Regions from separate parts of the Homo sapiens genome. Here region 2 is linked to region 1. Evidence: fine-mapped expression QTL. A gene starts in region 1. The other region holds a variant in brackets. All regions are shown on one strand. Distances are from middle to middle.

Region 1 (5,381 bases):
ATCTATGCCTGACGGTATTCAGAAATAAAATCAGTAAAACTTTCAACACGACAGCAGAGCATTAAACCAGGAGTAGAACTCTTCTGACATCAGGGCCCTGTGCCACAGCACAAGTCATATACCTATGAAACCTTCCCTGGCTGTGTGTGTTGGCTGATAACAACTTACATCTTTTTTCGGGAGGAGTGAGGGGACAAGGTCTCACTCTGTTGTCCAGGCTGGAGTGCAGTGGTGCTGTCATAGCTCACTGTAGCCTTGACCTCCCGGGCTCAAGCAATTCTCCCTCCTTAGCTTCTCAAGTAGGCGGGACCAAAGTTGCGTGCCACCACACCCAGCTAAATTTGTGTGTGTGTATGCGTGTGTGTGTGTGTGTGTGTGTGTGTGTGTGTATGGAGATGGGGTTCTCCCTATGTTGCCCAGGCTGGTCTCAAACTCCTGGGCTCAAGCAATCCTCCTACCTCAGCCCCCCAAATTGCTGGGATTACAGGCCTGAGCCATACAACTCACATTTTACCTCTTCTCCAGGGAATTGTTCTCTGCCAAATGGGAGCCACCTTGCTCCAGAGACTATGCTCTGCTCCACCTACAGACTTTGATCTGTGACTGACGCTGAGCTACAAAAAGCCAGTGACTTACTGTCAACGTGGGATGACTTGTGTGTGCTTCAGAGTTTTCAGGTGCGATTAACTAAACTTAATCTCTAGTTAAACCCCATTCTTCATCACTGCCCTGCTCCCCAGCCCTGTCCTGCTGCCTTTACTTCCTTTAACCTGAGAGAGCATTACAAGAAACTACATTCATAAGGATCTCTGTTCCAAGTTCTGCTTCTAGGGAGCCCGACCTAAAATAGGAAGGGTCTCTTTATAGAAATATTTCAGCTAAAATCCCAAAAAGAGGAAAACAGAAAGAGTCTTTGCTTTCCCTTGGACAAACTTGAATTGAAATTGAACCCAAATTCCAGGATGCTTTTCTAGAATTAGTTACCATCTTATAGGAACCACAGAGTAAAGAGATAATGTGTTAATGACACCACTGAGATCCAGACTGTAGGAAAATACAGAACAAATGACTATTTCATCAATAATTAAAGAAAAAATTAAAAAATGAAAACCCACAGATTAAAAGAAATTTAGGAAATTTGGCAACCAATCAAAATGCGCATATCTTATTTGTATCTTGATTCAAACAAACTGTTAAAAAAAACTATAATACAATTGGGTATTTGAACACAGATTAGACATAAAATGATATTAAGGAATTGTGAATTATTAAATGTGACAACAGTATTGTGGTTATATGCTAAAAAGAAGAAAACCCTTATCTTGTAGATACATACTTTGAAATATTTATGCCTAAAGTGATATTATGTCTAGAATTTGCTTCAGAAATAATTTTAAGGTTGGGAAGCGGGTAAGATAAAGACGAAATAAGATTGGCCATGAGTTGTTAACTGTGGAATCTGAGTGAGGACTAGTACATGGGGTTTGCATTATACTATTCCATTTTTCCAAATGTTCGAAATTTTCCATTAAAGTTAAGATAAAGTTAAACTATAAAGACTGTTTCTTAAACAAAAAAGGGGCCGGGCGCTCACGCCTGTAATCCCAGCACTTTGGGAGGCCGAGGCGGGCGGATCACGAGGTCAGGAAATCCAGACCATCCTGGCTAACACGGTGAAACCCCGTCTCTACTAAAAATACAAAAAATTAGCCGGGCGTGGTGGCGGGCGCCTGTAGTCCCAGCTACTCGGGAGGCTGAGGCAGGAGAATGGCGTGAGCCCGGGAGGCGGAGCTTGCAGTGAGCCGAGATCGCGCCACTGCACTCCAGCCTGGGCGACAGAGCGAGACTCTGCCCCACCCCCCAAAAAAAGGAACAGAACAGAAAGGTATTAAGAAGAATTAGAAAAAAAATCCACTGTCCTTGACTCATTTCCTGTCCCCCCCCAAACGTTCTGGTGTGGAGAAAAGGATGAGCATTGGTAACAAGTACCACAGTTTGCCATTGGGGTGGGCGGGACTGATGCTCTCTTTATTTAAATTTTTGACATCTTGCTCATCATAAATTTTCTTGCAATAATTGTTTTTTAAAATGTTGCATTAAAATGTTATTTTTCTTGACTGCTGAGGAATTTTGCACCCCTTTAAATTCTGCGCCCGCGTCCTGGTTGGGAGATGTGGGGAAAATCCTGGGAGCCCAGGACAGGGAGAGGCAAGTCCCCACAGAAGTGGGAATGGCCAACAGCTCCCTGAGAAGACAGCTTCCCTCTTGGGGAGGCAGAGGAAGTCCCAAGAATACACAAAGACAGGAGAGTGGAAGGGCCGGCCAGTCTGGAGATACTAAAAGAGACTCCGGATGAGGATAGGGGCTGACCCGAAAGCCCCGCCTGACTCCGGGCTGCAGGAGGGGGCGTGGGACGGGGGCGGAGCCGTTGGCGATGACAACAGCCCCACGTGACCGGCCAACACTGAGTGTTGTCTCGCTCTGGCGTCAGAGCCGTCGTGGCTCGTTCCATTCTCGGCGGTGGTACCTGCTCCCGGTGGCCCTGAGGACGTGTGGGCCAGGGGCGGCCCCGAAATTAGGAAGCGGAGGGGGAGCAGGTAAGGAACCCGGCGGGGGGTCCCTGGGGTTGGTGTGAGGGAGTGGCTCCGGCCTGCGGATGCCCACCCCGGGGGAGCCGTGCGGAGAAGCAATCGGTCCGCGATGCAGCCCCCGGGCCCCGCGGCGGGCCCGCGAGCCTTCCTTGAGCGGAGAGGTGCCCGGCCCGGAGGGAGCCGGCGGTCCTGGGGCTACGACCCTTCGGAAACACCTGCCTACGCCATCAGCGCAAGCTTTTCCGACACCCCTGCCCCGCACTTCTTGGTGCAGAAAATGGTGGTCAGCTTGCGGGGCGGGGCGGCTGAGGCGGGGGGCGAGGGTGGCGAGGAGGGCCAGGGCCAGGGCCAGGGCCAGGGCCTCGGGGCGGGGCGGGGGAGGGGCCGGATGGCGGTAGTTCCTAGCTAGCGTTCTGCTGCAGCAGCCCCCACTTCCCCCACCCCGGCAGTCTGCAGGTCTGCGGGGCTAAGTGTCGCGGCGGCGCACCTCGCGTCAAGAATCCGGAGGAGGAGACTGCAAGGATAGGCCCAGGTCGGTGCGAGGGTCGGTGGTGAGGCGGGGGCCGGAACGTGAGGAAAGCCCAGTCTGAGACCCTAATCCATGCCTTCACCCTCGCCCCCCTCTACCCCATGCAACCCTCCCCTTCCCACACGCCATCCTCGTCCTCCATTTTGCTGCCTGCGGAAGCCTGGAGATGGATCTACAGGGAAAATGGTGGGCTTTGCGGAAGGGAGGGGCTCGGATTGAGGGCACCCCACAGGGCATACTGGCTTCTCAGGTGGAAAAAAATGAAATGTTAGAGTATAAAGTCAAGTCCAGGGCTCTGAATTTTAAAAGGTGCCTAGTAGGGCCTCTGTCCTCAGTGCTTATCAGTCCACCAAGAATTCAGCCCATTTTCTCTCTCTTGTCTCCTAGGAGTAATGGAGTCCAAAGAGGAACTAGCGGCAAACAATCTCAACGGGGAAAATGCCCAACAAGAAAACGAAGGAGGGGAGCAGGCCCCCACGCAGAATGAAGAAGAATCCCGCCATTTGGGAGGGGGTGAAGGCCAGAAGCCTGGAGGAAATATCAGGCGGGGGCGAGTTAGGCGACTTGTCCCTAATTTTCGATGGGCCATACCTAATAGGCATATTGAGCACAATGAAGCGAGAGATGATGTAGAAAGGTTTGTAGGGCAGATGATGGAAATCAAGAGAAAGACTAGGGAACAGCAGATGAGGCACTATATGCGCTTCCAAACTCCTGAACCTGACAACCATTATGACTTTTGCCTCATACCTTGAATCCTAAAAGTTTTCGCTGAGGTTAATGTGAACACTGCTTTACAAGCTTGTATTTTTGTGATTTACTTTTTCTGTAAGCCTTTTGGGGTTTACACTTACCAGTTTCTAATGGAAATTAGAATTCTAATTGAATATTGTTTTGTCTCAGCCTAAAAGTTACGGTCAGCATGGCAATTCACCTATTTTAGGAAAAATACTCTTTTCATAATATGAAATGCATAAAGCAGTTCAAAAAGCAGTCTGTATTCCATCATCTTCCTTTTTCATTCCAGTCCTTATTTTTGTAAGTATTACTTTTCCTCCTCCGGCTACCTGGACTCAAAATCTCAGTTGTCTTTGACAGTTTTTTTCTTGTCCCTGACCAAAAAAGAATGATCATACCCAGAATTCAATGTTTGATATTTTAAGAATGTATGTTCTAGTGTTTTTCAGAGTGAGTCTACCATCTGTATAAAAACACCTTGGGGGCAGGCAGGGGCATTTAAAAATGTAGGACCTATCGTCCAGACTCACAGAGTGGGGCTCCAGAATCTCCATTTTTAACAAACTCTCTTAAGTAATTCTGATGTGTACCAAAATCAGTGCCATTGGTGTGTGTGTACGTAACTATATACATATGTGTGTGTGTGTATATATATAATGTGTCATAACCGTAAACAATAAACAATATCAAGATAAATCTGACTTTGATGGGCAAGTAATTAAAAAAGAAAAGTATGAGACCTTAAAATAAGACTGATGATTATAGGAGTGGTAGGGACAGTGGCAAAGTTATTCACTGTGCAAAGCAAAACATGCCTGAAGGTCACAGCCTGAGGAACTCAGAATTCATCACCCCTGTCAGCAGTTTCACATCCAGGATCTCATTTTATTCTTAGAACAACCTATAAAATCTGTATTGTTATCCCACTTTTACAGATGAGGTCACTGGGGCTTAGAGATGTTAAGTACCAAGGCTAACTCCTGCTGAATATCTTGGGGGTGGGGGAATCCAGCCTGGGCCATTTTCTATTGGACCTTATCATCTGGAGATGCAGAATATTTGACTTTTGTAACTTGATGACAAGCTGAGGATGGTAAAAGAGACTCAGCAAGAATGGGGCTGTTTTTCTATACACTGTTTTTCTACATCTCAAGTACACTTTAATTTTTAGAATATTGAGGGATAAAAAAAGTAAGATCCTCTAGTGTTGTTCAAAGTTAGGATTGCCACTCTATGGCTCTTGAAATCAGTTTTGTGGGTTACAACAAGCAATTTTTTAAAAAGAGAACAAAAGTCATCCTATCACCCGTGAGTAGTGTTAAGAATTGTTTTGGAGAAAATAATGTGTTCTATGTAGTAAATATTGCCACCTTTATGATGTATTTCTAACTAGATCACAGTGAAAAAAGAATGAAAATCACTTATTTGGTGCAAACTTGGTTTCACAAGTGAAGAATTGTTAAGAAAGCGATTTTTCCTAAGGTCATACAGCCAATTAGTGAAAGCTGTGACCACAGCCTTGG
Region 2 (5,381 bases), 170 kb after region 1:
CTGGAGAGGATGTGGAGAAATAGGAACACTTTTACACTGTTGGTGGGACTGAAACTAGTTCAATTTTGAAATGTATTTTGGCAAATTTAGAAATATAAAGTAAATATATTTATTTACTAGAACAGAACTATTTATTTACGAAACTTAAAAATTGTCTTAGAAGTAGAAAAAGTTTTGAGTTTTATAAATGAAATGGACAAAATTCCACGTCTACTCTGTCTCCTTTCCTGACATCACATGTATTATGTAGTAAATATACTGATTTTGTTTGGAAAAGTCCAGTTTTTAAATTTCAGAAAGATAGCATGTTATGTAGTCAATATTTCATGTGTAACCAGCTGGAATGCTTTCTAAGTGATATAACTATACATAACCCAATAAATAAGGCATCCCTATAAACTTGAAAATCTAATTTTTAAAAAATTTTTGCCAGACATTTGAAAAGTCACAATTAGCATGTTTAGAAATTTACTCTGTTGGAAAATATTTCCAATTTAATAAAAATAAACTTTGCTGAGTTTCATATGAAGAGAGAAATCTTCAGATGTATGCCCATTTAAAAAAATCATTTTTGGCCAGGTGTGGTGGCTCACGCCTGTAATCCCAGCACTTTGGGAGGCTGAGGCAGGCGGATCACGAGGTCAGGAGATCGAGACCATCCTGGCTAACACGGTGAAACCCCGTCTCTACTAAAAATACAAAAAATTAGCCGGGTGTGGTGGCGGGCGCCTGTAGTCCCAGCTATTCGGGAGGCTCAGGCAGGAGAATGGCATGAACCTGGGAGGCGGAGCTTGCAGTGAGCCGAGATGGTGCCACTGCACTCCAGCCTGGGCAACAGAGCAAGACTCCGTCTCAAAAAAAAAAAAATTTGTTTTCACACAAATGAACTTTGTGTTTCTGATTGTAAAGTAATGCATTCTAAAGTGGTTTTTGTTGTTGCTTTGAGCAGAAGACAAACTGTATTAAGAAAGTTTTAAAATATTTTCTTCAACATCTTGTTTCTTTTCCTAAGATCACATGAGTATCAATTAATTTTAAGTTGTTGTCTATTTTTTCCCTAAATTAATACATATTACTTAGTTTGTAATTAAAATTTGATTTTTAAAAGAGGAAGCAAACTAATGTGTCAGTCATTAAAAGGGTGGAAAATTTGTTGAAAAAGAATAATGAATTTCAAACTAGTTCTGGATCCTTTCGCTGATTATGTAAACTTAGTAGTTATTGCCATGGTAATGCATTAGTGTTTACCATACATTGGTAAAATGGAGATGATAATTTCCAGGGCTGCTGTGGGACCCAAAGGAGATAAAGAGCATGTGAGTGAATGGTGTTGGATGACTTCATGTTTTCACCTGCACATTCAGAATCCAAGTACCTCAGATCCCCTTCAGCTGCTGGGAGTAGTAGCCAAACTATGTCACAGTCCCACTCCATCCCTCAGCTATGATGACCCACCCACTTCTCCCAGTTCTGCACTCTCCACTGGCCTTGATCACTACAGATTTCTCTAGACACCTCAATGTGCTAATGTCCCAGTTTATATCCTACAGAGGTGTGCATAAAGACCTACTTGAATTACAGTTGTACTAGCTTTGTTGGGTACTGTCTTAGTGATGCTTGGACCATGGTATGTTTTATATTTTTAGCAAAAGAGGCCTTTTGCTCAGCTTATATTTGTGGTTATAGGATATTAGGGGCCGAGTCTTGTTTTTTTTTATCCACTCTGACAATCTCTGTCATGTAATTAGAGGGCTAAGACAATTTCCACTTCAAGTGACTATCAATATGGTTGTCACACAACCACAATTAATGCTCTGTTAATTTTTCAGTCTTTTCTCTCTGTGTTTCATTTCAAATGGTTTCTTTTGCTATGTCTTCAGGTATACTATTCGTCTACAATGTGTAATCTGCCATTAACTTCATTTAGTATATTTTTTCATTTCAGACATTGTAGTTTTTATCTCTAGATGTTTAATTTGAGCCTTTTAAATATTTTTTATATTCCATGTCTCTACTTAACTTATTCACTCTTTCCTCTAGCTTCTTGACCATATGCAATGAAGTTCTAATTATCTGCTTTTATGTCCTTATCTAATTCTACCATTGTTGTCACTTCTGGGTCAGTTTTGATTGGTTGCTTTTTCTCTCATGATGGGTTTTATTTTCCTGTTTCTTTGTAGGCTCTTGATTGGATGTCAGACATTGTAAGTTTCACCTATTGAGTGCTGGATATTTTCGTATCCCTGGAATTATATTGATTTTTATTCTGGAAAACAGTTATTTGTAAAGTTTGGTATTTTAGATTCTTGCTTTAAAACTTTGTAAGAAAGGATCAGTGTTGTGTTTAGTTTAGAGTGAATCGTTCTCCACTAATGAGGAAAATTCTTTCTGAGTACTCTATCTGATGTCCTATGAATTATGAGGTTTCCAAGTCTGGCTAGTGGGAACATGCACTGTTCCCAAACATGTGTGAACTTAAGGAATTATTTCCTTTAATCCTTTTCGGTAGATCATTTCCTGATCTAGGGTAGTTTCCCTACAGACATGTGATGATCAGAATGATCAGTACTAGTTAAAATACTTGGCAGGCCATTAGACTGAGGTGACTCTAGCAAACTAGAGTTTCTATGGAAGCAAACTGAAACCCAACTCATAGTGAATGGTCATAGCCTAGGAAAATAAAATTTAAGCATCACCAATTAAAAACTGCCAACTAACCTCTAACTAGAGACTTTACCAATCAAAAGCTGCCTATTAACCACTAACTAGAAACCTTTCACTTTTACAAATCAAATCTTTTCTTTGCTTTGCTTTAGAAAACATTTTATAAAAGATTTCCCTCACATGCCCCCTTGGTGGAACACTGAACCACTTGCAGTTTGGCATTGTTCTGTTCATGAATAAACTCTGCTCAAATAAACTCTTCAAAATTTTAATGTGCCTGTTTATTATTTAAGAGTACTCAGGTAAATATTCAAGAGTGGCTCTCCATGGATCTCTGGAATTCCTTCTCTGTGCAGCTCTTTCCTTTCTGGGACACAGCCCTGTGAACTCCAGCTTCCTTGCCCTCCTTGGACTCCCAACTTCTTATTCTAAGCTCTGGGATACCACAGGGCTTTGCCTGGATTCCTACTTCTTGCACTGTGGCCTGAAAACTTTCTTCAGGAAGTAAGCTGGGGCAATTGTTGTACCCGAGCGAGTCAGAAAAATGCCACACTTTGAGACGAATTATGAGTCCTTTTTTAGCCGGCGACCAAGAGACGGCTAACGTTCAAAATTCTCTCGGCCCCGAGGAAGGGGCTTGATTAATTTTTATACCTTGGTTTAGGAAG[G/C]GGGGGTGTCCAGTTAGAACAATTTTACAGAAGTTAAGTAGTCAAAAAGTTAAAAGGATAAATGGTTACAGGAAAGTAAACAGTCCCAGGTGCAGGGGCTTTAAGACTATTACAAGGTGATAGACGCGGGGCTTTGGGTGTTATCAATCGGACGAATTCTTGGGGACTGCAGATATAGCTTGCCACAGTATTTTATCAGTTAATTGCATTCTTGGATGTGCTGGGAGTCAGCTTGCACAAGTTAAGTCCTTGAGGAAGGGGCTGCCAGTGAAAGAGCCAAGATGGAGTCTGTCTGGCTCTCTTAGCTAAGGGAGAGTCAATTCAGTTGGAAACAAGGCTAGGTGATTAAAGGAAAAGGGAAAGTCTAAAAACAGAGTTAGTAAAAACCAGGTTGGGCATTACACAATCATAAGAATAACCTCATTTGTTCCCAGTTTCTCAGGGATCACTAAACATTGTTGCCTGTTGTCTAAGGTCTTGAGAACAGCTTGTTCTTGTATTTCATCCAACTTTTTAGTTGTTTCATGTGGGAGAAAAATTTCATCTATCTAGGAGCAGAAATTCTGGTATGCCTTAGGTAAATTCTGTTTTTGTTTGTTTGTTTTTGAGATGGGGTCTTGCTCTGTCGCCCAGCCTGGAGTGCAGTGGCATGATCATAGCTCACTACATCCTCAGTCTCCCCAGCTCAAGCAATCCTGCACCCTCAGCCTTGCAAGTAGCTGGGAACACAGATGTGCACCACCACACTCAGCTAATTTTTTTTTTTTATTTTTAATAGAGACGAGGTATTGCTATGTTACACAGGCTGTCTTGAACTCCTGAGCTCAAGCAGTCCTATCACTTTGGCCTCCCAAAGTGCTGGGATCACAGGCATAAGCCCCCATGCCAACCTTGAATAAATGTTTAATGTGGTCATTGTAAGTCTGTGGGGATCCTCAAATCCTTAGCCCAGTTCTGCCCTTCACGAAAGAACAGCAGGCAAGTCACTTCATTTCTCTAGAAGCAAAGACTTGCATTTCCTACAGCAAATTTAATTTGACACAGCAAATTAAAAATGAAAAAAAATTAGCATTGTATTATAAAATAAACATTGCATTGGATTCTTGTTTTTAAAAAACAGCAAGGAAGACTTTATTCAAGACTCTTGCAAGAGAGGAGAGAGATTGAACTCAGTTCCAAATACTACTGAGACAGCTGGGATTTTATGGCCACTGGGAAAGGTGAGGGAAAGGGTGGAAAACTAGTAAGAAATTTGGTTAGTTATCAGGGGAAGGGGAGGAACTTGATTAGACATCAAAAGTGGCAGAAGAAGAGCTTGATTGGATGGCAAAGGTGGGAGGATTCTTGATAAACTGACTCAGCAGGATTTTTGCTAAAACTGGGCTCAGTTGGCGAAATAGAGGCCCAGTTGAAAAAAATAAGGCTCGAAGACTGACTAAAGTTTTGGTCTAGGAGGAAGGAGTCCATGTCAGTATGTATTGGTGATTTTTGAAGCATTTCACACAGACTGCCTGCTTCACAATCTCCTGTCTTTGTTGTTAACAACATAGAATTTGTCACCCTTCCCCAATATTACATGATTCAAATATACTTCTAACTGGGTCCCAAAACATACATTATTATCATGCTCCCCTGAGAGATTCTAATGCACACTAATACTGGAGAACCACTGGTGGTACAATGGAAGCACAATTATATTGAGTACAAATATGCCTAGAGAAAGACTGTAAGAAAATGTGTCAAAATGCTAGAGAACCTAGTAATGCATATATCATGGGATCTAAATTATCCTATTCTATGTTAGGATTTATTTTTGAAAAATTTTCAACATTTCTCACCTTGGGATACATCATATACTAGATGTGATAGTTTTCTCTTTCTCAGAAAAGTGTTTCTGTTCACTATCTCCATGAGATTAATTTTGTTAGCTCTCTCATAAAAGTGAGAATATATGACATTTGTCTTTTCATGTGTGCCTTATTTCACTTAACATAACGTCTTCTAGTTCCATCCATGTTGTCACAAATCATTGGATTTCATTCTTTTTAT

The links. PIP is the estimated chance that this variant, and not a neighbour inherited with it, causes the effect.
Region 2: its variant is fine-mapped to the expression of BEX4 in tibial artery (GTEx, PIP 0.93).

The regions. Positions count from the first base shown.
Region 1 is chrX:103,212,642-103,218,022 of GRCh38, forward strand. BEX4 (brain expressed X-linked 4) reads left to right here and starts at 2,467. Exons shown (of 3, transcript NM_001080425.4): 1 at 2,467-2,597; 2 at 3,041-3,123; 3 at 3,508-4,605. The coding sequence starts at 3,513. The coding sequence ends at 3,875.
Region 2 is chrX:103,381,853-103,387,233 of GRCh38, forward strand. No RefSeq gene overlaps it. Among named protein-coding and RNA genes, the nearest start is that of BEX3, 8.0 kb to the left of the region's middle. The variant G/C (reference allele first, on the strand shown) is at 3,333.